7 linked regions of the Homo sapiens genome follow. The protein of the gene in region 4 interacts with the protein of the main gene of each other region in a pairwise test. Each region holds a gene or a part of one and is shown on either strand. Other genes may lie near its edges. The genes, in order: TRIM24, RNF166, VPS41, UBE2U, TRIM3, TRIM74 and TRIM37.

What was found.
Region 1: the proteins of UBE2U (region 4) and TRIM24 interact in a two-hybrid assay, tested with the Homo sapiens proteins (one large-scale study listed by BioGRID and IntAct).
Region 2: the proteins of UBE2U (region 4) and RNF166 interact in a two-hybrid assay, tested with the Homo sapiens proteins (one large-scale study listed by BioGRID and IntAct).
Region 3: the proteins of UBE2U (region 4) and VPS41 interact in a two-hybrid assay, tested with the Homo sapiens proteins (one large-scale study listed by BioGRID and IntAct).
Region 5: the proteins of UBE2U (region 4) and TRIM3 interact in a two-hybrid assay, tested with the Homo sapiens proteins (one large-scale study listed by BioGRID and IntAct).
Region 6: the proteins of UBE2U (region 4) and TRIM74 interact in a two-hybrid assay, tested with the Homo sapiens proteins (one large-scale study listed by BioGRID and IntAct).
Region 7: the proteins of UBE2U (region 4) and TRIM37 interact in a two-hybrid assay, tested with the Homo sapiens proteins (one large-scale study listed by BioGRID and IntAct).

Annotation. Positions count from the first base shown.
Region 1 is NC_000007.14:138,575,259-138,578,758, forward strand, and holds part of TRIM24 (transcription intermediary factor 1-alpha), read left to right. Parts: intron 1-1,114; coding exon 1,115-1,187; intron 1,188-2,161; coding exon 2,162-2,330; intron 2,331-3,500. UniProt on the Homo sapiens protein: Transcriptional coactivator that interacts with numerous nuclear receptors and coactivators and modulates the transcription of target genes.
Region 2 is NC_000016.10:88,699,909-88,703,408, forward strand, and holds part of RNF166 (E3 ubiquitin-protein ligase RNF166), read right to left. Parts: exon of another isoform or gene 2,882-3,500; intron 1,511-2,881; coding exon 1,354-1,510; intron 1,043-1,353; exon of another isoform or gene 1,033-1,042; coding exon of another isoform or gene 712-1,032; exon of another isoform or gene 1-711. UniProt on the Homo sapiens protein: E3 ubiquitin-protein ligase that promotes the ubiquitination of different substrates. In turn, participates in different biological processes including interferon production or autophagy.
Region 3 is NC_000007.14:38,755,692-38,759,191, reverse strand, and holds part of VPS41 (vacuolar protein sorting-associated protein 41 homolog), read left to right. Parts: intron 1-710; coding exon 711-838; intron 839-2,209; coding exon 2,210-2,354; intron 2,355-3,500. UniProt on the Homo sapiens protein: Plays a role in vesicle-mediated protein trafficking to lysosomal compartments including the endocytic membrane transport and autophagic pathways. Acts as a component of the HOPS endosomal tethering complex.
Region 4 is NC_000001.11:64,206,623-64,210,122, reverse strand, and holds part of UBE2U (ubiquitin-conjugating enzyme E2 U), read right to left. Parts: intron 3,360-3,500; coding exon 3,267-3,359; intron 1-3,266. UniProt on the Homo sapiens protein: Catalyzes the covalent attachment of ubiquitin to other proteins.
Region 5 is NC_000011.10:6,463,942-6,467,441, forward strand, and holds part of TRIM3 (tripartite motif-containing protein 3), read right to left. Parts: intron 1,792-3,500; coding exon of another isoform or gene 1,755-1,791; coding exon 1,624-1,754; intron 1-1,623.
Region 6 is NC_000007.14:72,966,667-72,970,808, reverse strand, and holds the start of TRIM74 (tripartite motif-containing protein 74), read left to right. Parts: upstream 1-1,342; 5' UTR 1,343-1,524; intron 1,525-3,855; exon of another isoform or gene 3,856-3,976; intron 3,977-4,142.
Region 7 is NC_000017.11:59,047,881-59,051,380, forward strand, and holds part of TRIM37 (E3 ubiquitin-protein ligase TRIM37), read right to left. Parts: intron 3,449-3,500; coding exon 3,334-3,448; intron 1,514-3,333; coding exon 1,298-1,513; intron 1-1,297. UniProt on the Homo sapiens protein: E3 ubiquitin-protein ligase required to prevent centriole reduplication. Probably acts by ubiquitinating positive regulators of centriole reduplication.

The sequences.
Region 1 (3,500 bases), on a different chromosome or scaffold from region 4:
AATGAAGCATGTATTCTTATATTATCAGGAGATTATAAATAGCCATTGTTTTGATTGATTTTGAGGCAGGGTCTCACTCTGTTGCCCAGGGTGTAGCAATCATGGTTCACTGCAGCCTCATACGCTTGGGCTCTAGTGATCCTCCTGCTTTAGCCTTCCCAGTAGTGGGGACTACAGGTAGGTGCCACCAGGCCTGGCTAATTTTTTTTTTTTTTTTTTTGGTTAGAGACGGGTCTTTGTTGTCCAGGCCTTTTATTTTTAAATTAAATTCTCCAGAGTTTACAAACCAATGAAATGATAATCTTCATTTTATCAGCCACATCCTGTTGTTCATCAAACCTTTTAGAACTTCTGTCAATTCGGAATTTTTTTTCTACTTCCCACTTTCATTGTATTCCTACTTGTTACTGTTTAGTTTGGGCCTTCATCAGTTCAAATCAATTATTTGCAACAGTTTTCCTTCTTTCTTGGCTGCTTTTAATTAGATCTTCCTTGTTCCAGTCTACACTACCACCAGAGCATAGCTTCTTAATCTTTTTAGGGCAGTAGTCCAGAATCCCTCTTTTGTTTATTGCCTTAAGTCTGAACCCATTGATCTTTCTGTGTCTTCCATTAGTTGGTTTAATTTTGTTTACTTGGTTTTCTTTTTTGAACTCCTTTTCTATCAGCCCGTACCACCTTTCGTTGTCTTCTGTAGCTTCCACTGGCACTAGGGTCTCACTGAGATCTTACCCCTGTTACTCTAACACAGAAAGACTTGGCAATGTTTGGAGATGTTTTTGATTGTCACACCCCAAGCTGGGAAGTATAGAGAGATGCCACTGGTATCTAATAATTGGTGGAGGCCAGGGATGTTGCTAAACATCCTGAAATGCAGAGACATTCCTCCACAACAAGGAATTATCTGGCCCAAAAGTCAATAGTGCAGAGGCTGAAAAACCCTGCCGGTGTAACAGGCTGTAACAGACTGCTGAAAATTCAGCAACTACTTACTGTTTCATAGAATTTCATCATGGTTCCCAGTTTCAATGTAGTGCTAAGTGAACACATTCAACAGGACTTCAATGCATAATTATTCATTCGTTTTATGAATGTATGGTTTCCCCCTCCTCAGGACCTGTTACTATGACTAGTGTACACCCCCCAATACGTTCACCTAGTGCCTCCAGCGTTGGAAGCCGAGGAAGGTAAACTGACTAAACCATATTTTCTAGTATATAAAAATCTCTAATTAGATTTCTTTTGCCAGTGTTCAACATGTTTTGATACTCAATATATTTTGAACAATTTCCTTTATTTTTAATTAAAATTTTAATAACTACTATATATTTTAATGAATTAGTTAAGGGATTAACAAAAGTACAAATTTACCTTTGAAGATAGAAGAATATTTGTCAATATGTTGAAAATAAGAAATGTTGGATATTCATATAATAGCAAAGAAAACATAAAAATGAATAGGCATAACACAGTACACTATATAGAAACACAAATTTAGAGAAAAGATAAAATTTTATGCTAATTTGATCTCTAATGACTAAATGTTGATTCTACTTTAAAATAAATATACAGTTATTGAAATTCTATATTTTAAGCAACTGCTCTCCTCTTCCCTGCATTATGCCTGAAAATTCCTCCTAGCTAGTGAACCCAGTTCTTACTTTATCATATGGAAGAATTGTCTGAGGGAGAAAAGTTTGCCTTTAATCCCATGAGAACATAGTGAATCTCTGTAAAAGCTTTTTGACCCACTACCTTCTTTAAATAGTATTGTGTAAATACATGATTATTTCATTGTCTTCACCAAAGTATTCACTTTGCTACTGACTAGAGAAGGAAATGAGAAAGCCTAAAATCAGATGCCAGTTCTAAGATACTAAATCTGGTTGCCTAATTGTAAAGCCTCAGGTTTTTAAAAGTTTAGGTTTATTGAAACATCTTTCTAGATATATAACTATTTAGATAGGTTAATATGTAAAACATTTTTATCATAAATGAAACTTGCATACACCAGTTTCATTTGTTATGCATCATTAATTGCTGATGTTAACATACTTATTGTTGTGAAGATACAGTATTTTAGAAAGTTGTTGTTATACTTTTTATGAGGTATTTAGCTTAACATTCTTAGATTGCTTTTTCTTCTCTCTCATACTTACAGCTCTGGCTCTTCCAGCAAACCAGCAGGAGCTGACTCTACACACAAAGTCCCAGTGGTCATGCTGGAGCCAATTCGAATAAAACAAGAAAACAGTGGACCACCGGAAAATTATGATTTCCCTGTTGTTATAGTGAAGCAAGAATCAGATGAAGAATCTAGGCCTCAAAATGTAATTATGAATGCTTGCAATGCTATTCCTATGCATGGTGGGTAGGGTGAGAGAATCTTTTAAATAGCTCTTAGGAGTTTTTTTTTAATGTTATATTTAAAAGGATTTAAAGACAATTTGAGGGAATCTCTCAGTAAATTAAACAAAAAGACAAAGATGGAAAAACAGGAAAGTTTTTAAAAATCAGAGGCTCAGATATGGAGGCTGGGCAGTTAAAAGGAGATATTCTTTCTTTAATCAGAGTTTTATACCCAGGCAAATTATCAATCAGATTGACTTGAAGATTAACTAAACATTTTCGTGCAAGTTCTCAAAATAATTCTTATGTACTCATTCTCAGGAAGATACTTGATAATATGAATCATCAAAAATATAGTAAAACAAGAAAGAAGACATAAGATTCCAAAAATGGAATCTGACACAGAAGAAAAAGGCAACCCCCAGTACAGCAGCAGCAGCAGCTTGTGCAGTAGTCTGTAGCAGGAAGACATAGGACTCCCAAGGGAGAAAAATGCTTCAACAGTATTGAGAATCTCCTGTTGGAGATTGTGAGAATAACATAGAAATAGGTACCTAGAAAGATAAGCAACTGAAAATATAAGGTAATTACAGAGTCTTAGTAAAAACAAAAAGTTGTACAAAAAATGTCTTAGTACATTTTGTGGGTCTGCAGTGAACAATATTTAAATAATAATAATAATGATGTAAACAAACACCTGAGTACGAATGTAACTAAAAACTGTGATGCAATCAGGATATAACCTGAATATGCACTTAACCAAAAATTGTGATTTTCAGAATACTTAACCAGTACAAGACAAATACTGATCAGTTAGAATAGATACTGGCAATAAACAGTTATACCAGTACCTACCAACTAAAACAATCAATGCTTAATCAAAACTAAGTTAAAGGGATGGGGTGAATGGTGGTGGTGGTGGTTTTGTGTGTGTGTGTGTGTGTGTGTGTGTGTGTGCGCGCACGCACGAATGGAAGCAGGACGGGGTTGGAGAATCAGAATGTAAAAACCTAATCTCCTGATCTTCACTAGTAAGGATTATAGATGTATTGCAATTTTTAACAATCATTTTATTTAGAAATATGGAGGTAAACAGCAGAAGAAAAAGCTAGGTTTGAAAATAGTTCTTCCAAGGAATAAGTGCTTTTAAC
Region 2 (3,500 bases), on a different chromosome or scaffold from region 4:
CTACTCCATGGCCAAAAGCAAGTCACTGCAGGACAATCTGGCCGAGGGCAGAAACCTGGCTGGAGAAGGGTAGCGGGAAACAGGTAAGGAGATCTCTGGCGCCTGCAGGAGTTCAAATACTTGCTCCAGAAAAAGGAAGAGGCCAAGTGGAGGCCACTCAGAAATGCCCCAGGCTGGGGACAGACGCTTCGTGTGACTGAGGGGCAAGCTGGGGATGCTTCCGTGGAGGCAGGGCGCCATCCTCCACCCACAGCACACCCACTGTCCAGGGCAACAGGCTGCAAGATCGCAGGTGTCTGAGGCCCTCCTGGACTCAAGCTCGGCACCCAGCTCTGCCTAAGGGCTGCTGGACTCCGAGGGATGCACCACATTCCAGCAAGGTGCCGGGAGACACAGCCGCATCTGAAGACCCAGATTAGAGAACGGAGCTGCTGTGGGATACGGGAGGCCGCTCTGCATGTGACCGGTTCTGATCCTTTCTGGCTGCCCAGGAGAGAAGAACTCTGAGCAGGGAGAGACGGGAGGTGCCCAAGCACCCAAGACCACAGCCTGCTCAGCCGCACCACTCTGGAGTCCAGGGCAGCCCCTGGACATCTGGACCTTCGACCTCGAGGACAAACCACCGAGGGGCCACGTACTAGTGTGAGCGCTTCATAGAACTTATTCACCTGAGATGTGGCAACGTCGGGAAACGCAAATGCAAAATCACCTCTAGCTGCTCAGTCCTCCGGAAGCCACTGAAAGAACGGGGCGCTGGCTGGGGCCTCTCCACCCTGAAGCGGATGTGCCAGGGAGGGCCACGGGGCACGGGCCAGGCACCAGGACAGGATGGACATGGGGGCCAATGAGGCCCATGACAAGCTGCAGGCCCTTACGCTGCTCTGATGTGGGTGTGGCAGTGCCCATCAGCCCGGCTCTGGCCCTCCTGGCAGCTGGAGGGTGCTCGGCCCTTAGATGTCCTTGACTGTGCCCGCGGCCCTTGTGACCTTGGAGCCCCCAGCGCCGTCCCCGGTATCGGCTGGCAGGGGAAGGCTGCATTGGGAAGGTTTCAGCTCAGCCCCCTGGTCCTTACCCTGGCCACAACCCACGTGGGTTCCCCTGGCCCGGGCTAGGCGGCTCTGACAGTGCTACCCCCACCGGGCTGGCCCCCCCGTCAGCCGTCACCACAGGAAGTGAGAGATGAAGACGGGAGGGGAGGGAGGCGCCGGGGCTGGCTTCCTGGTGCAGGAGCAGAGACCGCGATTACTCAACAGGAAAGAGAGAGGGCCCCGGCCCCCACCCTCTGCAGAACCCGTGGGCTGAGGCTGCCCATCAAGTGACCCCGGCTCCAGGGCGGCCCAAGCAGGCGGGTACCTTTTTGTTGCAGCCTCGACAGGGCGCTTTGTAGGATGAGAGCTGCTTCTCCACGTGGGTGGCCTTGTCCACCTTCTTGGGGTCGAAGGGCAGGCGGCAGAGTGGGCACAGCGGGGATGGCACCTGCAGGCAGGGCTGGAGACACTCCCCGCAGAACCTGCAGGGCACAGGGGCCTGAGTGCCAGCCCGCCCCTCGGGTCTCCCGAACCGCAGGCCTTGCTCGGGGCCCTTCTTAGGACCCAGCATTTGTGGGGTCCACAGGGGCAGCTCCCCCTACCGCTGTCGCCGTCTCTGGAGATGGTCACTCCTATGTCCGGGGCCCACCAGCTGGATGGGCCCCATCTGGCTAAAGGGTGGCCCCGGTCCCTCCTGACAGTAGGCCCCTGTGGTTTCTGGCTAGCGGCAGAGCCGTCACTATGGCTGTCCCCGCGAGTGGGCCAGAGGAGCTCCCATAGGCAGGAGGCCCCAGCTCGGGCTACCAGGTTCACGTTCACGTGGCGACAACACCTGGGTGGGCTGTGGGGCGCAGGGACAGCCCGGGGACTCTGGAAACTCTCCCGGCTCCACACTCTGGGGGATAAAACCTCAAACAATCGTGGGAAAGGAAACGGCCAGGCCCCAGGGGCTCCAGATGCACTGGACAGGGAAGGGCCAAAGCTAGCCAAGTGGCAGCACATCCTGAGGCTGGGTGGCAGTCACCAGGCTTGGGACAGCTTCGCAGGCAGGAGGGGGTCCTGCTCCATCTGGGCGGAGGCTCGGGTCCTGGGCACCCATGGGCCCTGGCTCTTGGCACTGCCCCTGGGGACACCACATCGTGAGGACAGACTGAGCGTCCCACAGCCCCGTGCGCACTCCGGGCTCCAGCAGCAGGGGCTTCCTTGGGCTCGCACACCCTCCCGCTCTGCAGACGCACACAGCCCTTGGAGGGGTGCACCACCAGCCAGTGGGAGCACCAGGCGCGAGAGCCCCCAGTGCAAACACAGAGAAGGAGCTTAATACTGGGGCAGCCACATCTGGCCTTGTGAGGAGCACTGTGGGGACAGCTGAGCTGCGGCGAGGAGCTGGAACTGAGGCAGAGCCCCCCAGTCCCAGGAAGGCTACAGCACCCGGGGGTGTAGCTTCCCTTCTCCCTGGCAAGGCCACAGGGCTGGTACAGGAGCCCCACTGGACAGAGGGGCTGTGGGCAGGCCCTGGGTTCACAAACGACTCAGCTGAATTCAGGGCCAGAGTCCTCTTTGCTGTCAAGAGATTTCCACATCCCTCAAGAAAAGGCCCTTTCTGCAAGGAGGAAGTCTGAGGGCCTCAGGCAAAGGTGGCCAAGCAGGCATCTTAAGTCCCTCCTGCTGTCCCCCAGGCCCTCTTTGCCACCACTGGATTCCCACAGAGCCACCACCTGGCTGGTGGCTCCCACATGAAACTTCGTGTGAGAGAAAGCGGGACTCAGCTTGAGACCCGTCAGAAAGTGAACAAGCCTTTTTCTGCAGAGTAAAGAGGTCGCTCACTTTACCCACCTCACCCGAGTTCTCACCAGGCGCCCCAGCAGATATTTCCAGGGTCATCCCTGGCACTGACCCCTGGATTTGAGCCGGGGGGGCCGCCTACTTCACCCGTTCACGGGAGGAAGGTGCTGGCAAGATGGTCCACCTGGGGAGGCCTCAGGGGACCCCCATACTCAGGCACTCATGGCAGGAGAAGCGGAAGCAGCTCAGGTGCCCGTCGGTAAACGGATGAAGAGACGGCGTGGCGTGCACACCCATGGAAAGGGCGTTCGGCCGGGAAGAGGCGTGCAGCCCCACCACGCACCGGAAGGCCTGGAAAACAGTGCAGGGCAGACAGCAAGCACGTCCCACCCGTGTCGTGGGGGTCCACTCACGCTCAACGTCCAGCAGAGAGAAACCCAGTGACCAGAAAGCAGACGGGTGGGTGCCAGGCGAGGGGGAGAGTCCTGGGTTTCTTTCTGGAGTGGGAAGAATCTTCTAGAATTGCATCGATTGTTGCATAATTGCAAACACACTGGAAACGACTGGATGGTGCACCTCCTGAGTGAACCCTGAGCTGCCAGAGACCAGGCCGGGGCTCGGCTGCACAGCACGGCCACGGGCTGAGGGGAAGGAAAAGGGTCCCAGGCAGAGCTTGGGAAGAGAGGA
Region 3 (3,500 bases), on a different chromosome or scaffold from region 4:
AAGACTGCCCCCACTTCAGACATACCAATCACAAGTTATAGGCTGTCACCTGTACTTCCGACTGGTCAACTATAAACTGGAATTCCCACTACCACCTCCTTAGATTTGACTCATTTGCTAGAGCAGCTCATAGAACTCAGGGGAACACTTTACTTACATTTACTGGTTTATTATAAAGAATATTGCAAAGGATACAGATGAACAGCCAAATGGATTAGATGCAGAGGGCAAGGTATGTGGGAAGAGGCATGGAGCTTCCAGGTCCTCTTTGGGTGCACCACCCTCCAGGAACCTCCAGGTGTTCAGCTCTTGGGGAGCCCTCCAAAGCCACTCCTTTTGGGTTTTAATGAAAGCTTCATTACTTAGACATGATTGATTTAAACACTGGGCCATTGGTGATCGGTGTAACCTTCAGCCCCTCTCCCCTCCTTGGAGGTTGTGGGGCAGGGGTGGGGGTAGGGCTGAAAAGTTCCAACCCTTTAATCCTGTCTCAGTCTATCCTGTGCCCAACCCCATCCTTAAGTTACCTAGGGGCTGCTAGCCACCAGTCAGCTCATTAGCATACAAGAAGACACATCATTTTAGAGATTCTAAGGATTTTGAGAGTTATATGCCAGGAAACAGAAGGAGGACCAAATGTATATTTCACAATATCACAACTATTATTCTGTTGAATGAGTGTTCTTTTTCTGTTTTTCACCTTTGGTTAGGGTTTTGCCACATTGATCCGAGAATGGCCTGGAGATCTGTATAATAATTCAGTCATAGTTCAAGCAGTTCGGGATCATTTGAAGAAAGATAGTCAGAACAAGACTTTACTTAAAACCCTGGCAGAATTGTGAGTATACTTAAGTGTTTCTTTTTCCATATCAGTCTGTGTTGAAAAGTTTTTCATACTTTAGATTTGGCAAACTCCAAGTGGAGAAGATGTATTTTATACCATTTTCCTACATTCCTTCTTAGTAAAAACCTCTCATAAACCTCAAATGAGTAGGCGATAAGGACATGTGTGAAACTGTACAATTGCAATGTAATCTGTTTCCCAGAGAAGAGAACCCCTAACGCACAGCGCTTGGGAGAGGCAGTGGTTAGGAAACAAAAGGGTGCCAAGTTTTAGATCACTCAAGCATAACAGTTTCCCAATGAGCAAGGCTCTGGATTCTGCTCTTCTAGGGTCTTCAAGTCAGTTAATTTAATCTCTCAAATGTCAATTCCTTATGGGAAAATTTTAAACTTTAAAAGAGATGTCATAATAGAGGACTCCCTGACCCTGAGTCAGGGCTCAGAAAATGGCAGCTTGGTTAATATTTTTCATATTTCTTGGGCACATTCAGTGATGCAGGCTTTGTGCGAGACGCTTATGATACAGAGATAGATAAGATATGCTCTCAAGTACTTCGATCTAGGGAAACAAGAAGTATACTGCAGGTCTAGCCAAGACGACCATCCCTGCATCCACCTCTCCTCAGTGCCCCCATCACCTCAGGCCACTCCTCTCCCTTGTTTTTTCTTCTTTTGCCCAAAACCAAAAAAGGTATACCAAAATGACCTAGAACTCTGGACGTGTTGGATTTTCCACAAGAGGAGGTTGTGTTTATGGCATTCTAAGTTGAAATGCTAATCATTTTCTCTTGGAAACGTTGTCCTGTTAGATACCCCTTAGAGTCTGCAGCACGTTCGTAATGGACCAACAGTACAGCTTCAGTTCAGTGAGCTCTCAAGAGCTGACTTAGGGACTTAATGTGAAAAACATTGTTTCAATGGAAAAACACATTTCAGTTAGACACAGCCCCCTTAAAATCAGCTTTTGGAATATTAGCCATTTGTCAGCTGAATACTGCTTGTAAGAATTGGAACGGATGTTTCTGTTACTAAAATGAGAACTTCATCCTGGATCCTAGTTTCTTTGCTGTATGGATGTTTGTAAAACTTTTGAGACTGAGACCCCCAATAAAGACCATTTTTATTACTTGAATATTGTGAATTTTCTTAAATTTTGGCAACATGAGAGGCAAAGTTCTGAGAAAGAAATACTTATTGGTCGTGTATAGTTAAATCCTATTCAAAAATAGGAATATTTTTTGAAATAAAGTTAACTTTTCTCTCTAAAGGAGTGTTTCCATTTTTAATATTGTGAACCATGATCTCTCTGTGTGTGTTTTAATTAGAACTGTTGATGAATATTAATGTAAAAAATTTGTATTACCAGGTACACCTATGACAAGAACTATGGCAATGCTCTGGAAATATACTTAACATTAAGACATAAAGACGTTTTTCAGTTGATCCACAAGCATAATCTTTTCAGTTCTATCAAGGATAAAATTGTTTTATTAATGGATTTTGATTCAGAGGTAATGTGCTTTTTATTTTAGTACTGTCAATTATTTTTACTATTCCAAATATTTAATACTTAGATATCTATCCAAATGCTGGATTGGTGAATGAATCACATAACTTGGCTTTATGCCGACAATCTTTAGAACACTCTGACCCTCGCTAGATGTTGTTATTCTAGTTGTTTGGCATTCAGGAATCCTTTTCATAATGTAGTTATTCTGTGAAAGCAATTCAAAGTTGATAGAGAACTTTTAAAGTTGTGTGTGTGCGCATATAAAGTAATTTCTTGCTAAAACAATTCATATAATTTATAGAAACAAACCACGTATATACTTTGACTCATTTATCCCTCCTAACCTGTTTTCCAGAATTTTAAAATTAAGTGAACTTCCATCTTGACCGACTTATTACTATTTTATTTCTTGGTGTTCACGTATCCAGCATGTGGGGTTTCCCCTGGTTTGAGGTGATGCTCATGTCCAGGACATGTGGAATGTTATTTTATTGTGTGACAAATTTGAATAACCTAATAATAAATTTACGCCCCCTAATGAGTGGACCCAGCCACAGCTCACATTGGTGCTTGCAAAGTGATGCAAGCTGTGTGTGTGTGTGTGTGTGTGTGTGTGTGTGTGTGTAAAAGAAATCTAATTACAAGTGCTCATGACAGAAATAATGAGGTTTATAAAACAGTGTTCTTATTCAAAAAATTGAAATTTTAGATAAACCTAAAAGTAGAACCCTAAAGGCTCCAAAAGGATTAATGCATTTTTCAATTATATTGTACTGTATTTAGAGATATTGTGTGCTATATTAATCTCCACCAACTTAAACTTAATTTAGATAGGAGCTAGAGCTACGTCTTTTTCTCAAAGATGCTTTAGCCCTTTTTAAAATACTGAGTCAAGTCTTTAGGGACTACAGATTTACGAAGAATTACGTAGCTCCAAGGAAGTTCAGGTAGAGAGGCTCTGCTTGTCTGGCAGAGGATGAGATGCTTATGTAAAAATTAATTACATTTTCCTCATATCTAGTCTCCCCTCATGCACCCCCTTCCATTGTTCTCCAGAGCTCGTTTTGCATATGTTCCTGTGGAAAAAAGATGAATGAGCTGAAACTAATTGCTATTCTAGAATGTGATCCAGATGTAAGGAATCAGA
Region 4 (3,500 bases):
CAAAAGCCTCAAAGGACAAGATTAATAGATCTTAAATATAAATTTATTTTAAATCATAAAAATCTCTAAATCCCAGATGTGAAAAAACAGCATAAACAAAGTTGAAAATTAATGACAAATTAGAGGAAATATTTGCAACATCTAGGACAATGTGATAGCACTGTCAATTGTATCATACGAGTCACAAAATAAGAATCAACAAAGGTGGGAAATGTTTACTTCTCAAGTATTCAAAGAAGTGCTTATTAAAATAATAGCAAGACTCTTACCAAATTGGCAAAAAAATTTTCTTCAAAGTTTCAATGGCCAGAATTGGAAGGTGCTAAAATAAGAACTTTATATGTACTTTTTGGTAGGAGTACAAATACCACCGAAAGGCAATTTGGCTTTTTATATAAAGACTTAAAACTGTACATAGCCATCTTTTGCGGGGCGGGCGGGGGCGGGGGTTGAAAGCTAGTAAATAACCCTTCTCTCCCCTCAAGTTCATATGTAATTATAAAATAGATCAAAGTATTGAAAGGTGGAAGTAAAAACATCAGCTTCATTGCACATAAGACTGAAATGGAGAACGCACTTGATGAATGGCTTTAATCAGGCTCCACAAAAGTCCCCCTGATTTAAACTTAACTCCCAAACCGAAGGCCTGCCTAAGTTTCCTGCCTGGAGCAAAAGAGACTATACCCAGTATGGTCAGAAGGAGAGAGTGTTGAGCAAGTTCTGGGCCACATATGCTCAATTCTTTCCTTCATCTCCCTAATCAGATAAGTGACTTCTAGGAGGAGTGATGGGGGAAAAAAAAAGAGCAGTCACAAGTTTTCCTATACCTTCCCCCTCCTAGAGACTAAAGTTCCCTCTACTTTATGGAAGTGGGAGGGATGAGGACTAGGGGATAAGAGTACCTCCCCCCATTGAATTTAATCCAATAATTCTAACTATTTTAAACAAATAAAGGCACACGTATGTAATTAATTTTGTGTTATAGATACCAAAAATAGGTTTTAATTACAATAAAATAATGTACTTGGGAAAAAAACATAAAAAATCTAATGTAAAATATGAATGTTCCCCTGCCTACTAATTCTACTATTCAAGACCAATATTACCAGTTGGTCTATACAAATATACACACAAACACATATATGTATACACACCCATATGTGTGTGTTTATTAAATGGGAATATATTTTACATTTTATTGTTCAATGTATTTTTTCACTTAACAATGTATTTTCAACATATTTCTGGACACAAATATTTATTCAAAAAATATCTGAATACCTACTATATGCCACGCAGTGAAGATTCTAAGGATATAGCAATGATCTAGACCTAAAAGGTTCGTAGACCTTCCTCGTTCTGTTTAGAAGCAATACACGTAACTGTAGGATATTTCACTTAAAATTCCTGTGTTAATGGAGATTGAAGTTATTTCCATTTTTCCTATTTCTAACATTGCTGTTGGGAATAAACATCTTTTTTTTTTTTTTTTTTTTTTTTTTTTTTTTTTTTTTTTTTTGAGACAGCGTCTTGTTCTGTTGCCCAGGCTGGAGTGCAATGGCACAATCATGGCTCACTGCAGCCTCGACCTCCTGGGCTCAAGCAATCCTCCTACCTCAGACCTGAAGTAGCTGGGACTACAGGCACATGCTACCATGCCAAGCTAATTTTTTTATTTTCTGTAGAGACAGGTCTCACTATGTTGCCCAGGCTGGTGTCAAACTCCTGGACCCAAGCAATACTCCCCACTGACCACCCAAAGTACTGGGATAACAGGCATAAGCCACTGAGCCTGGTGGGAATAAACGTCTTTAAATATAACACACTCTTGCACACTTGTGCTAATATTTCTACAGAATAGTTTATAAACATGGTATTACGGGAATTTAGGGATATATGCATTTTATACCTGATTAGAAACTGTCACACTACTTCCTCAAAAGGTCATGATTATATCAGAGGAACAATGTCTGCCCATGCCTACTAAATATGTATGTTATATTTTGACATTTTATGAATATGTGATAAATAACAATACTTTTTGTTTTAATTTGCTTTTATTTTCTTAGTAGTGAGATTGATAATCTTTTTATGTTTATTTTTGTTGTTTATTCTGTCCAGTGTTTGTTTATAGCCTTTCTCCATTTTTTAATTGCTTTATGTTCTTTTTATATTGATTGACAAGTGTTCTTCATATGGTATACATATTCTGTTACATGCATTGCAAATATTTTCCCTCAGTTTGCAAAAGTCAGTGTCTTTGACCTCTGAGTATAATGTCCTGGGCCGTAGAGAAGTTTTAACAGGTTTTGCAGTTTAATGTGTCATATTTTCCATACAGTTACTGGGTTTTATCATGCTGAGAAACGTCTTCCTCACCAAGCCCATAAAAATTCTATTAGATTTCCTTCTTTTCCAGCATTTAAAATTTTTAGATTTTTGATCCTTCAGGAATTGGTTTTGTGTATAACTTTAAGTAGCAATCTAACTTACCTTTTATTTAAAAAAAGTTAATCTGTCCAGTGCATCGTTTTTTTATAATAATGAAAAATTAGATCCAACTAAAATATTGAACAATACAGAAATGGTTAAGTGTATTGTTGAACCATTTAAGATGATCTTTTGAAGACTGTTTAATAATGCAGAAAAAAGACATATAGTTTTAAAATTAAAAACCTAGGCCAGGCGCAGTGGTTCACAGCTGTAATCCCAGCATTTTGGGAGGCCAAAGTGGGCGGATGGTCAGGAGTTCAAGACCAGCTTGGCCAACATGGTGAAACCCCATCTCTGCTAAAAATACAAAAACTAGCCAGGTGTGGTGGCGCATGCCTGTAGTCCCAGCTACTGGGGAGGCTGAGGCAGGAGAATCGATTGAACCTGGGAGGTGAAGGTTGCAGTGAGCCGAGATCACACCACTGCATTCCAGCCTGGGCGACAGAGAGAGACTCTGTCTCAAAAAAAACACCATAAAATAAATAAAATCAAAAACCTAGAGGCAAAACTTCATGCATAATACCTCAACTGTATAGAAAAAATTCATACTTAGAAAAAAGGAAAATAAATTTGGCAAAATGTTGACAGTATTTTCTCTTTGCATTAGGATTTAAGGTGATTGCTAATTTTTTCCAGCCTTTTCATATTTTCCCCAATGAGAGTTCTTACTTTTAGAATCATAATAAAGTTCTTAAAAAGAAACATGATTATTATAAGAAACAAGGATAATAGGGACAAAGCCTCTAATGATAAAAATGTCATTTAGTTCTTACCATTTGGATGAAACGGAATTGTTATAAATTTCACAACTGGAGGAGCATAGTTGTACTCCGATGTAAAATGTATTGTCAGTTGGAAGACTAAACCTATAATATAGAAATAAACATTTTTACTAAAGTGTCATGTTTATTGATTAACTGTAACCTGATTAACACTGGAGTTTCTCCCTATGGTTTAGTCTTTCCACAGTTTTATTTTTAAGTAAATTGATTCATAGAGTGCACCGA
Region 5 (3,500 bases), on a different chromosome or scaffold from region 4:
CAGGGCTGGCAGGGAAGCAGTATCTCTGGTGCAGAGCCAGGTTTCCGTTGGGGCAGAAGGCAGAGGAAAAGTGCGGATAGAGGCAGTGGTGGTGAGAAGACCTAGGGACCAGGCCACCCAAGACAGAACAATGAGAGATAAGGGCCCAAGAGAATATTGTCAAAATACAGATGTGATCACATATAAAACCCTGCAAAGGCTTCATGTGGCTCTCAGGGTAAAGGTGAAATTCCCTAACAGGTCTACAAAGCCCTAGGTGGTCTGGCCTCCACCTACCTCTCCAGCTTCATCCCATAATACTCTCAGTCACACTCACTCTGCTCTAGCCCTACCAGGCTTCCTCCAGGCCTCTTACCTGACATATTTTCTCATGTCACATGAGCTTTTCCAATGGTCTTTCTTCTGTGCAGAATGCTCTTCCAACCCCCTTTACCTAGTTAACTCCTATTCATCCTCTGAATTGCTCCTCAGGGAAACCTTCCCTGATTCTCCAAACTATAACAGATTCCATATGCCAATCTCTCATAGCTCAGCACTTTATTTGCAGCACTTACTAAAAGTTATATTTATCTATAATCTGGCTATATGATTATTTGATGACTATCTTTCTCTTTCACTATACTGTTAGCTCTTTAAGAGTAAGCATTGTAAGTGATGGATACCTTAAATACCCTACTTGATTGTTACCCATTCTATGCTTGTGTAACAATGTATCACATGTTCCCCATAAATATGTAAACTATTGTGTATCAGTTTTTAAAAAGAGTAAGCACGGTAGCTCACGCCTGTAATCCCAGCACTTTGGGAGGCCGAGGTAGGCGGATTGCCTGAGTTCAGGAGTTCAAGAACAGCCTGAGCAACACGGTGAAACCCCATCTGTAATAAAATACAAAAAGTTAGCTGGGCGTGGCGGCGTGCGCCTGTAGTCCCAGCTACTCCGGAGGCTGAGGCAGGAGAATTGGTTGAACCTGGGAGGCAGAGGTTGCAGTGAGCCGAGATCGTGCCACTACACTCCACCTTGGGCAACAGAGCGAGACTCCATCTCAAAAAAAAAAAAAAAAAAAAAAAAAGAGTAAGGATCTTATCTGTTTTTGCTCATCACTGCATACCCAATGCCTAGAACAGGGTCTGGCACATAGTAGTTGCTCAATAAATGAATATTTGTTAAATGAATAAGTGATCCATAGAAGCCTAGAGGCTGGGACAGGTTGCCTTTCACTCAGTACCTGAGGACAACAAGGACAAGCAGGGAAGGACAGACCTAACTTCAAATATCCTCCAACTAGTCATAAATTGCTGATGCCAAAGCTGGTTGAGTCTGAGCACTGTTTGATTTCTTAGGTGGTGTCAAAAGCTGCCTTGAGGTTTGGGAAAGGACAGAGAAGGCCCTATTCTTGACAGGAACCATGGCCCAGTGTTATGGTTCTTATGGTTCTCTCACAGGTTCTTGCCCTCAAAACCTCATTTCCTGCAGGTTGGGGTTCACCTGCTCTCCTCCCAGGTAAGCATGTTGCCTCACCTACTACAGGTTTACACATGCTCCCTCACCCTCCCCACAGGGGAGGAGGATCCTCATCCTCCCCACAGGGTCCTCATCCCTCCCCAGTACACACATCCCCTCACCTCTCACAGAAGGTGTGCAGGCAAGGAAGAACCTTGGGGCACTGGTACCGATCCAGGCAGATGCTGCATACCAGGAACTGCTTGTCCATTGGCTGGACCTCTGGGCCAGGGCTGTCCTCCCTCTTTGCCATGGCGCCCACAGATGGCTCCCGCCACTCACACCAGCCTCTGTATGGAGAGATGGTCAGCACCAGGGAGTCCAGAACTTCTTCTCCCCACCCAATCCCCGCCACTCAAATCCCCTGCAGAGAACTTGCCCCCACCTCTTCCCTGCTAGGGGCAAGACAGGGCAGTGACTGGAAGGATCAGGGTGATGTGACCTCTGAGCCTGGTGTTCTGTTTAAGAGCACAGACGTAGGATTAGATTGGGTTTCAAACCTGGCTCAGTCTCTCACCAGCTATGTGAGCTTGGACAATCCATGTAACTTCTCTGAGCCTCAGTCTCTTAATTTGTAATTACAGGAATAATAATTTGAGAGTGTGACATAGTGCCTGTTGAGTGCATGGTACAGAGATGTCCATTTTCACTGACATACCTACCCTTCATCTCCTCTACCTCCCCCAAATCCTCCTCCAAGAGACCTGAATGGAGTGTCTCTCCTCTAACTACCTGCAGCTCTTCCATTTATACCCTGACCCACCTCTTAGCACAACTGCCTGAAACTGCACTCTTTTTCACACCCAGTTAGTATCAAGGTCGGGATTGCTTCCTGAATATCTTAAACCCTTCTCTCCAATCCCACAGTTACTACCCCTAATTCAGGCAACCATCTGTTCTCTCCTGGAATACAGCAATAGCCTCTTAACTGGTGTTCTTGTCTCCTCACTGACACCTTTTCATTTATCTTCCTTGAAGCCAGAATGAATTTTCTAAAACACAGATTTGATCTTGTCAGTACTCTGTTTAAATTCCTTCAAATGTTATCCATTGTCCAAAGTCCTTATATTGACCAGTGAGGCTTAACTTTGCCCCATACCTTTTCTACAACCTCATGTCTCATAAGTCTATGATCAATCATTCCTGCTGGGTTTTTTTTTTTTTTTTCCAGTTCCTGGAAAATTCCTTGTTCTCTTTTGCTTCTGGGAGATCAGGCATTCGTTCTCTCTGTCCTGGGATCCTTTTCCTGGCCCCTTTTCCTGGCTGATGTGACACCTACTCATCTTTCAGGTCCCCATATAAATGTCACCTCCTTTAGAAGACCTTCCATGACTACCCAGAGTCTGGCTTGGGTGCTCTACCTCTGTGTCCCTCAGCACCCTGTATTTACTCCATCCTAACTCTTATAAGCTATGCTGTAATGTTCTTGTTACTTCTCTGCTTTCTCCACTCCATGCAGTGTTATTGAGGATAGGCATTTTATTTATTTATTTATATTTTATTTTATGTTTTCATTCTTAGCACTTAGCACAGAGCCTGACATAAAGATTGATCTATATTTACTGAATTGATTTCAGGAATTCAATAAATATTTACTGCCTACTTTGTACAGGTGTTAGGAATGGAATGATAAAACAGACAGGGTCACTGTCCCTGTGGTGGGGAGGTGGTGGCAGATATTTTAAAAGTAAATAATAGTGGCAGGGAAGTGATATAAAGAAAAAAGGGATGCTGTGAGAAAGAACACTTTTGATTGAGTCATCAGGGAAGGCTCTCCAAGGAGGTAACTTTTAAGCAGAATTCTGGGTGGATGGGAGAAAAATGGTATGGGTGAGGGTGAGAAACAACAGGGAGTCAGGAAGGGAAATCATTCTAGGCTGAAGAAACAGCATGATAAAGGTTCTTAGGCAGAAGGCTCATGGAGAACCTGAAAGGACTGTGTGGTTGGAGCCAAGTCAATAAAAGGAAGAGGTGAGTTTGGGAAGATAGGTAGAGATGA
Region 6 (4,142 bases), on a different chromosome or scaffold from region 4:
AGCCGAGGAGTTTTCCTAAAGTAATTAGAATCGAAGGGTCTGTCCAAGTGTTCCAGGTATCCATACTATTTCACTAGAATAGAGGAAAGAATGTAAGGAAAATGGACCCAAAACACCCACGCCTCCATAATATCGAGTCTCTCATGATCACACAGAAACAATGCGATCAGATGAGCTTAAGCTGCCCGACACCACGAGGTACAGGAATAAATCTCTCTGCATTTTAGGAGCCTGCCCTTCGGCTCAGAGGTTCAAGAGCTTCATGGAAGCATCACGCAAAGGGGACATAGGGGTCCTTAGCTTTCCTCTTAAAAAAACTAATTCATGGCAGAAGCAGCGGCTCACGCTTGTAATCCCAGCTACTGGGGAGGCTGAGGTGGGAGGATCACTTGGGACCAGGAGTCTGAGACCAGCCTGGGCAACATAGAAAGTGCCCCATCTCTACAAAAATATTAAAAATTAGCCGGGCATGGTGGATTGCGCCTGTAAATCTCTTATTTGGGAGGCTGAGGCTGGAGAATCACTTGAGCCCAGGAAGCAGAGGCTGCAGTGAGCTATGTTCGCACCACTGCACTCCAGCCTGGGGAACTGAGCGAGACCCCGTTTCAAAAACAAAAATCCACTTCAAACAAAGCATTTCCAACCCCATTAAATGCTTTTTGAAAATGAGGCCTCTCTCTTCCCAACAGAGTGCGATGACATGGATCCTGCGGACAAACCGCCCCAGGGCGTACCTAGCACCGAAGCATCAGGCGCCACTAGGTCTCCAGCTCCTTCTCGGATGACGTCCTTCAGCACGCCCCGGTCCCCCGAGATGTCCAGCATCCTCTGACTTAACCGCTCGTACAGGGACTGATGGAGAATGAAAGCCAGGCCTCAGAGCCGCAGACCCACCCGGCCACCCCTCAGCGTCTACGCCCCCACGTCTGGGCCCTCACCTGGCCGGGGGCGTCGTCCCCTTCCAGGACTCCCTGGTTTAACGCGCTTCCCCCCATGTCCTAGCTGCCCTCCCTGTGGCGTGAGCCTTCGGCCTGGTGCGCCCCGCTGCCCTTCCTGGCTGTGACTCTGGTGGGGTTCCGAAGGCCCCTTTATGCCCGGCAGACCCCTACCGACGGCGGCATTCCATTCTGGGGCCACGAGGAGGCACTCATCGTTTCGTTCCAACCGCCGCCAACGGCCCTGGCCCTCGCGAGCTCTGGAACTACAGAGGTCGCACGGTGAGTTGCCAGGTGTGGCCCGTAATCGGAGCGCACAAAACATGATGGGACACGTAACGGGACCACACAGGGCACATTGGGCACTTGCAGGGGCGCGAGGTGGCGGCACGTAATGGGAGCGCGCTGAGCATGATGGGGCATGTGCGGGAGCGCCAGGCGGGGCATGTAACCAGAGCGTGCGGGGCATGATGGGGCACGGACATGGGGGGTTAGGTGGGGCACGTAATTGGAGCTCGCGGGGCAGGATGGGGCATCTAACTGGAGCGACAGAGAGCACGATGGGGCACTTACAGGGGCCGGAGGCTGGGTACGTAATGAGAGCGAGCGGGAAATGATGGGGCACCTAACGAGCACGCAGAGCATGATGGGGCACGGGTGCGAGGTGGGGCGCACAGTGGGAGCGCGTGGGGCATGATGGGACACATGGCGAGGCCGTCAGGGCACAGGGGAAGCACTTTTGGAACACGTGAGTGACAGGGCTGCCGCCCTTGAAGGAGCCCTCGGAGTGGCTGCGTGGTGGGGCACGTGGGGCAGGTTCAGGAAAAAGGATGCAGCATGTGATTGCAGGGCAACCTGGTGAGGACACGAGAGCCACCTGCCACCAGCAGGGTTCAGGGCTCCCAGCTGTGGGTTACTTCCACCTTCTTTCACTTTCCCTCTTCCATTGTATTCTAGAGAATTTAGGCCCAGACAAGACACTGATTGATTGATTGATTGATCGATTGACAGAGGCTCGCTCTGAGCCCAGGCTGGAGTTCAGTGATGGATCTCAGCTCACTGCAGCCGCCACCTCCTGGGCTCAAGAGATCCTCCTGCCTCGGCCTCCCAAGTAGCTGGGATTACAGACGTGCACCACCAGGCCCAGCTAATTTATTTTTTAGTTTTTAATTTGCTGGTAAGATGGTTTGTAGCTTTGTTGCCTAGGCTGGTCTTGAACTCCTGGCTTCAAGCGATCCTCCAGTCTTGACCTCCCAAAGTGCTGGGATTATAGGCGTAGGCTACAGCCAACTTTCAATACTGCCCCATTGGGGGTTACGTTTCCAACACATGAAATTAGGAGGATACATTCAAACCACAGCAGTATATTATGACCATAATATTCATTAACTGTGTAACAGGCTGGGCGCGGTGGCTCACACCTGTAATCCCAGCACTTTGGGAGACCAGAGTGGGTAGATCACTCGAGGTCAGGAGTTTGAGACCAGCCTGGCCCACATGATGAAACCGCCTCTCTACTAAAAATACAAAAAATTAGCCGGTGTGGTGGCAGGCGCCTGTAACCTCAGCTACTTGGGAGGCTGAGGCAGGAGAATCACTTGAATCCGGGAGGTGGAGGTGGCAGTGAGCCTGATTGCACCACTGCACTCCAGCCTGGGCAACAAGAGCAAAACTCTGTCTCAATAAACAAACAAACAAACAAAACCTGTATAACAGAGTGTCATTGAATTTCTAAACGTTGAAAGACTTCACATTAAAAAAAAACTCACAATTTAATATTATTGAGTGAAAGAAACCAGACACAAAAGGGTACATTCTATATGATGCTGTTTATGTGACATTCAAAAACAGGCCACATGACAACATGGTAATAAGGACAGTGGCTGTCCTTGTTAGGAGTTATGACTGGAAGGAGGCAGGAGGGAGCTTTCTGGAAACACTGTACATCTTGCTCTTGAGAGTGCACGTATATACATCAAGTGTTTATCAAGCTGTGTGGTTAAGATTTGCACACTTGTATATGTTATACCTCGATTTAAAAAATCTAAATAAGTAAATAAAGATACCTTCAAATCTTTAAAAAAAAAAAAAAAAAGAGGCCAGGTTCGGCGGCTCACACCTGTAATCCCAGCACTTTGGGAGGCTGAGGTAGGAGGATTGCTTGAGGCCAGGAGTTCAAAACCAGCCCAGGCAACAAAGTGAGACCCCTGTCTCTACTAAAGTAAATAAAACAATAAAATAAAAAAAAAAATTCGAGAGATCGAACCATCATCTGCCAGTTTGTATTAGAAAAAAAGAGAGAGAGAAGGAAGACTGCGTGCAATAAGGCTCATGCCTGTAATCCCAGCACTTTGGGAGGCCAAGGTGGGAGGATTGCTTGAGCCCAGAAGTTGAAGACCAGCCTGGGCAACAAAGCAAGACCCGGTATCTACAAAAAAAATTTTAAAAATTAGCTTGGCATGGTGGCACGTGCCTGTAGTCCCAGCTACTCAGGCAGCTAAGGTAGGAGGATGGCTTGAGCCTAGGAGTTGGAGGCTGCAGTGAGCTGTGACCACGCCACTGCACTCCAGCCTGGGCAACAGAGCAAGACACTGTCTTCCCCTGCCCCCCAGCCCCCCACCCCCCCCAAAAAAGGATATAAGAGCAAGAGATTGAGATTCAGAAAGAACTGTTTCCCAGCACCTGTCTGCTCCTGTCGGGGTCGTGAGGTGTGGACAGTGTGCCTAGTCCCTCTGTTTCTGCCCCTCCTCCACAGTGGCCAAGGCCAGCACTTGAATGTTATCAGAGCAGGCCCAACAAAGGCTGCCTCCCCAGTCCTGTGATGTAACCCAGTTTCCACCTGATTCTGGTGACCTTGGGGACACAGGGGTGTTGCTGGGGAAGGGGAGGAGAGAAGGGGCAGAGACCAGGCAGTGGTGCAGGCGTCCAGCTGCACTTCCCACTTCTGACTCTGTGCCTGCTGTTCCCTGCTGGGAAGAAGAAAAGCCAGTGATGCTGGCTTGAGGCCATAGTGGGAGGCCCAGTGGATCCTGAGAAGCTAGGTATTCCAATGTCGGGCTCTCGCTGGGGGCTTCTGGTGCTTCTTCTGTCTCACTGACAAGCTTTCATAGGGGAGCAGGTGGGAGATCAGGGTAGAGGCCTTGTAGGTTCCAGGCTCTCTAGAATTACCTGGGAGTGTCACCTATAAGTGTAGAGTTCTGGGTCTCA
Region 7 (3,500 bases), on a different chromosome or scaffold from region 4:
CATCCAGCCCATAAACCAAGCACCAAAGAATAATACAGTTTTCAAAAATCTATTTTCTGCTCCTGTGCCTCAGCTGCTGAGCCCTGTAGAGAAAAATCACACAACCACACTGACTGATATCATTTTACTAACTTATGCGTGCCGCCTTCAGCTGGGCCCTCAGTGTGACTGGAATCCTTCACATATTCCACATCAGCTTCCTCACAGAGTAACGTTTCAAACCATCACTCCTCAATTCTACCTAATTTTACCATTATCAAGGTCATTAATTAACACTGTCACCTATCTGCACAGAAAAAAAATACCCACTATTAAGCAAAAACTTCCCCAACTTTTCAGCTGCCTTACCTGCAAACTCCACCCTTCCTTTAACTCAGTTTATCAAAGGTTAACTGCTTCACCTGACTGCTCCATTCCAAACCCTATTATCTCTAGTTTATCAAAGCACTTAATCTGTGCATTCTCTCGACCCACTGGGTCCTTCATTTTAACTTAAAACTGAAGTCTCTCATCTTAAAAATTACTACAAAAAAACCAACTGTCTATGCATCCCTTCTTATGTAAAAATATCAACTACTTCTTGAACTCTTATTCTGGATTCTGACTGTTGTTTAGCTGGGATAGAACCTGGCTAGCTACCGAATCCTAAATCAGTCTACCTACGTAAGTAATGATAAGGCATGTACTAGTTTCAGTGAATGAAAATAGAACACCTTTTTTTTTTCTTTTTCTTTGAGACAGAGTCTTGCTCTGTCTCCCAGGCTGGAGTGCAGTGGCACAATCTTGGCTCACTGCAACCTCCGCCTCCTAGGTTCAAGTGATTCTCCTACCTCAGCCTCCCAAGTAGCTGGGATTACAGGCAAGCACCACCACACCCAGCTAATTTTTGTATTTTTCGTAGAGACAGGGTTTGGCCATGTTGGCCAGGATAGTCTCGAACTCCTGACCTCATGTGATCCACCCACCTTGGCCTCCCAAAGTGCTGGGATTACAGGTGTGAGCCACCGCACCCGGCCAGAACACATTTTTAAAATCCACAATGTATGGTAGTTTAGGTTTTAAAATGTGTATCACGGTTTGTTTTATACAATGTATTGTTTTTTTCACAACCTTGAAATGCTTTGATTCAACAACTTCTGACTTATTAACATTTACATAAGGGCATACATACATTACTAATGGAAATCAATGGACAATATTTTTAGCCTACTGTTTTAGCACATAATATGTTAAAAGCCATGATGCTACTGTTTTTTTTTAATCAAACACAAAAATCTAAAACTGGCCTCATTATTACATGATAATCTTCATTCTGAATCTTCTCCTCATCTTCTTCATCCTCTTTGGCCTCTCTTACAGAAGCTGTAGTAGGACCACCTTCGAGAAGCATGTCAGAGCATGCAGACTTCTTAGCTCGTGTCTCCAGAGCATCATCATTTTGGGGGCTAAGATGGTTATCTGGTGGTGACAAATCTCTTGACTTCTGAGTTCGAGACAGCTCAATAGTAAGTCTCTTTTAAAACAAGAAAAGCACAAATATTAGCCACAGCTCACTGGCACAGTAAAAGATGTCTCAAGTGAAAAAAAAATGCATCCAGATGTTTCTAAAACCATTGCTTTATTTATTTTTTGAGAATGGTCTCACTCTGTTGCCCAGGCTGAAGTGCAGTGGTGCCATCATAGCTCACTGCAAGCCTTGAACTACTGGGCTCAAACGATCCTACTGCCTCAGCCTCTCAAGTGGCTGGGACTGGAGGTGTGTGCCACCATGCTTGGCTAATTTCATTTTTATTTATTTTTAGAGACGGTATCTTGCTATGTTGCTCAAGCTGGTTTTGAACCCCTGGGCTCAAATGTTCCTCTGGCCTCGGCCTCCCAACATGCTGGGATTACAGGAATGAGCCACCTCACTTGGCACCATTTCTTAAACCATTTCTCTGAATCCCTACTGCCTTTTATTTATAAAAAAAAATTGATGACAAAGATAAACTGCCCCATTTATGCTCATCCTCCTTCTTTCATATCCAGCCTAAGCTAAACATACAATTAGCAAACAGTATAGTGAATACAGGCAGTTTTAAATAGCACATTTAACATGAAAATCTCTGAAAGCATGTATTTATTCACATTTTCCTCCCTGACCTATTAACGACTCTCAGCACTCCAAACCTCCTGCCACACCCTAACTTCCTAAGGGAAATGAAACATTCCTTAGTTTACCACTGTAAAATAAAAATTCATCAATTAATCTTCCCCAGTGCTCATTCAACAATAGTAAGAGTTCAAGATGGGACAACTTTTAATTGTGCTATAGCCTAGAATCCTCTAAATCCAAGATAACTTGTGGAAGAGAAACTAAGTCACTGACAGAAACACAAACAGCTTACCTCAAACTACAGCCACACTGTTCAAAACAACTTTATGCAATGATGGAAATGCTCTAGATTTGCAGTAACCAATGCAAGCACTTGAAATGTGGCTACTGCAACTAAGGAACTAAATTTTTAATTTTAATTAAGCTAAATTTACAGACCAGGCACAGTGGCTCACACCTGTAATCCCAGCACTTTGGGAGGCCAAGGCAGGCAGACTGCTTGAGCCCAGGAGTTCAAGACCAGCTTGGGCAACATGGAGAAACCCATCTCCACAAAAACAAAAACTAGCCATGACACATGCTCGTAGTCCCAGCTACCTGGGAGGCTAAGGTGGGAAGATCACCCGAGCTTGGGAAGTTGAAGCTGCAGTTAGTGGAAATTGTGCCTGGCAACAAGAGTGAGTCCGACCTGTCTCCAAAATAAAAAAAAATAAAAATAAAGTGGCAGGGCGTGGTGGCTCATGCCTGTAATCCCAGCACTTTGGGAGGCCGAGGTGGGCAGATCACGAGGTCAGGACATCGAGACCATCCTGGCTAACACTGTGAAACCCTGTCTCTACTAAAAATACAAAAAAATTAGCCCGGTGTGGTGGCAGGCGCCTGTAGTCCCAGCTACTCAGGAGGCTGAGGCAGGAGAATGGCGTGAACCCAGGAGGCGGAGCTTGCAGTGAGCCGAGATTGCACCACTGCACTCCAGCCTGGGCAACAGAGCGAGACTCCTTCTCAAAAAAAATAAATAAATAAAGTAAAATAAAAATTTACATGGCCGTATGTGGCTAGTGTCTACTAAACTGGACACTGCAGAACTGGTAAGGATGGGGAACAAGATAACTAGATTTTTTTTCTAATTACAAATTACAAAATTACAAATAGCAATAAAATATATAAAATCTAATTACAAATATAACAAGCCAAAAGGACAATAGGAAACACCAAAACAGAAATAGATATTTTCTTACCTCTTTAAGGTTGTTTATTTGTTGGATATAACTAGTCTGTGCAGCTTCCAACTGAGTAATGTACCAATGCTGGTCCCGGGATTTTTGAAAGAAAGTTGGTGAACGTACCTGAAACCTTAAAAGAATTGTGCCACATTAAAAAAAAAATTCAAATAGTAAAACATTAT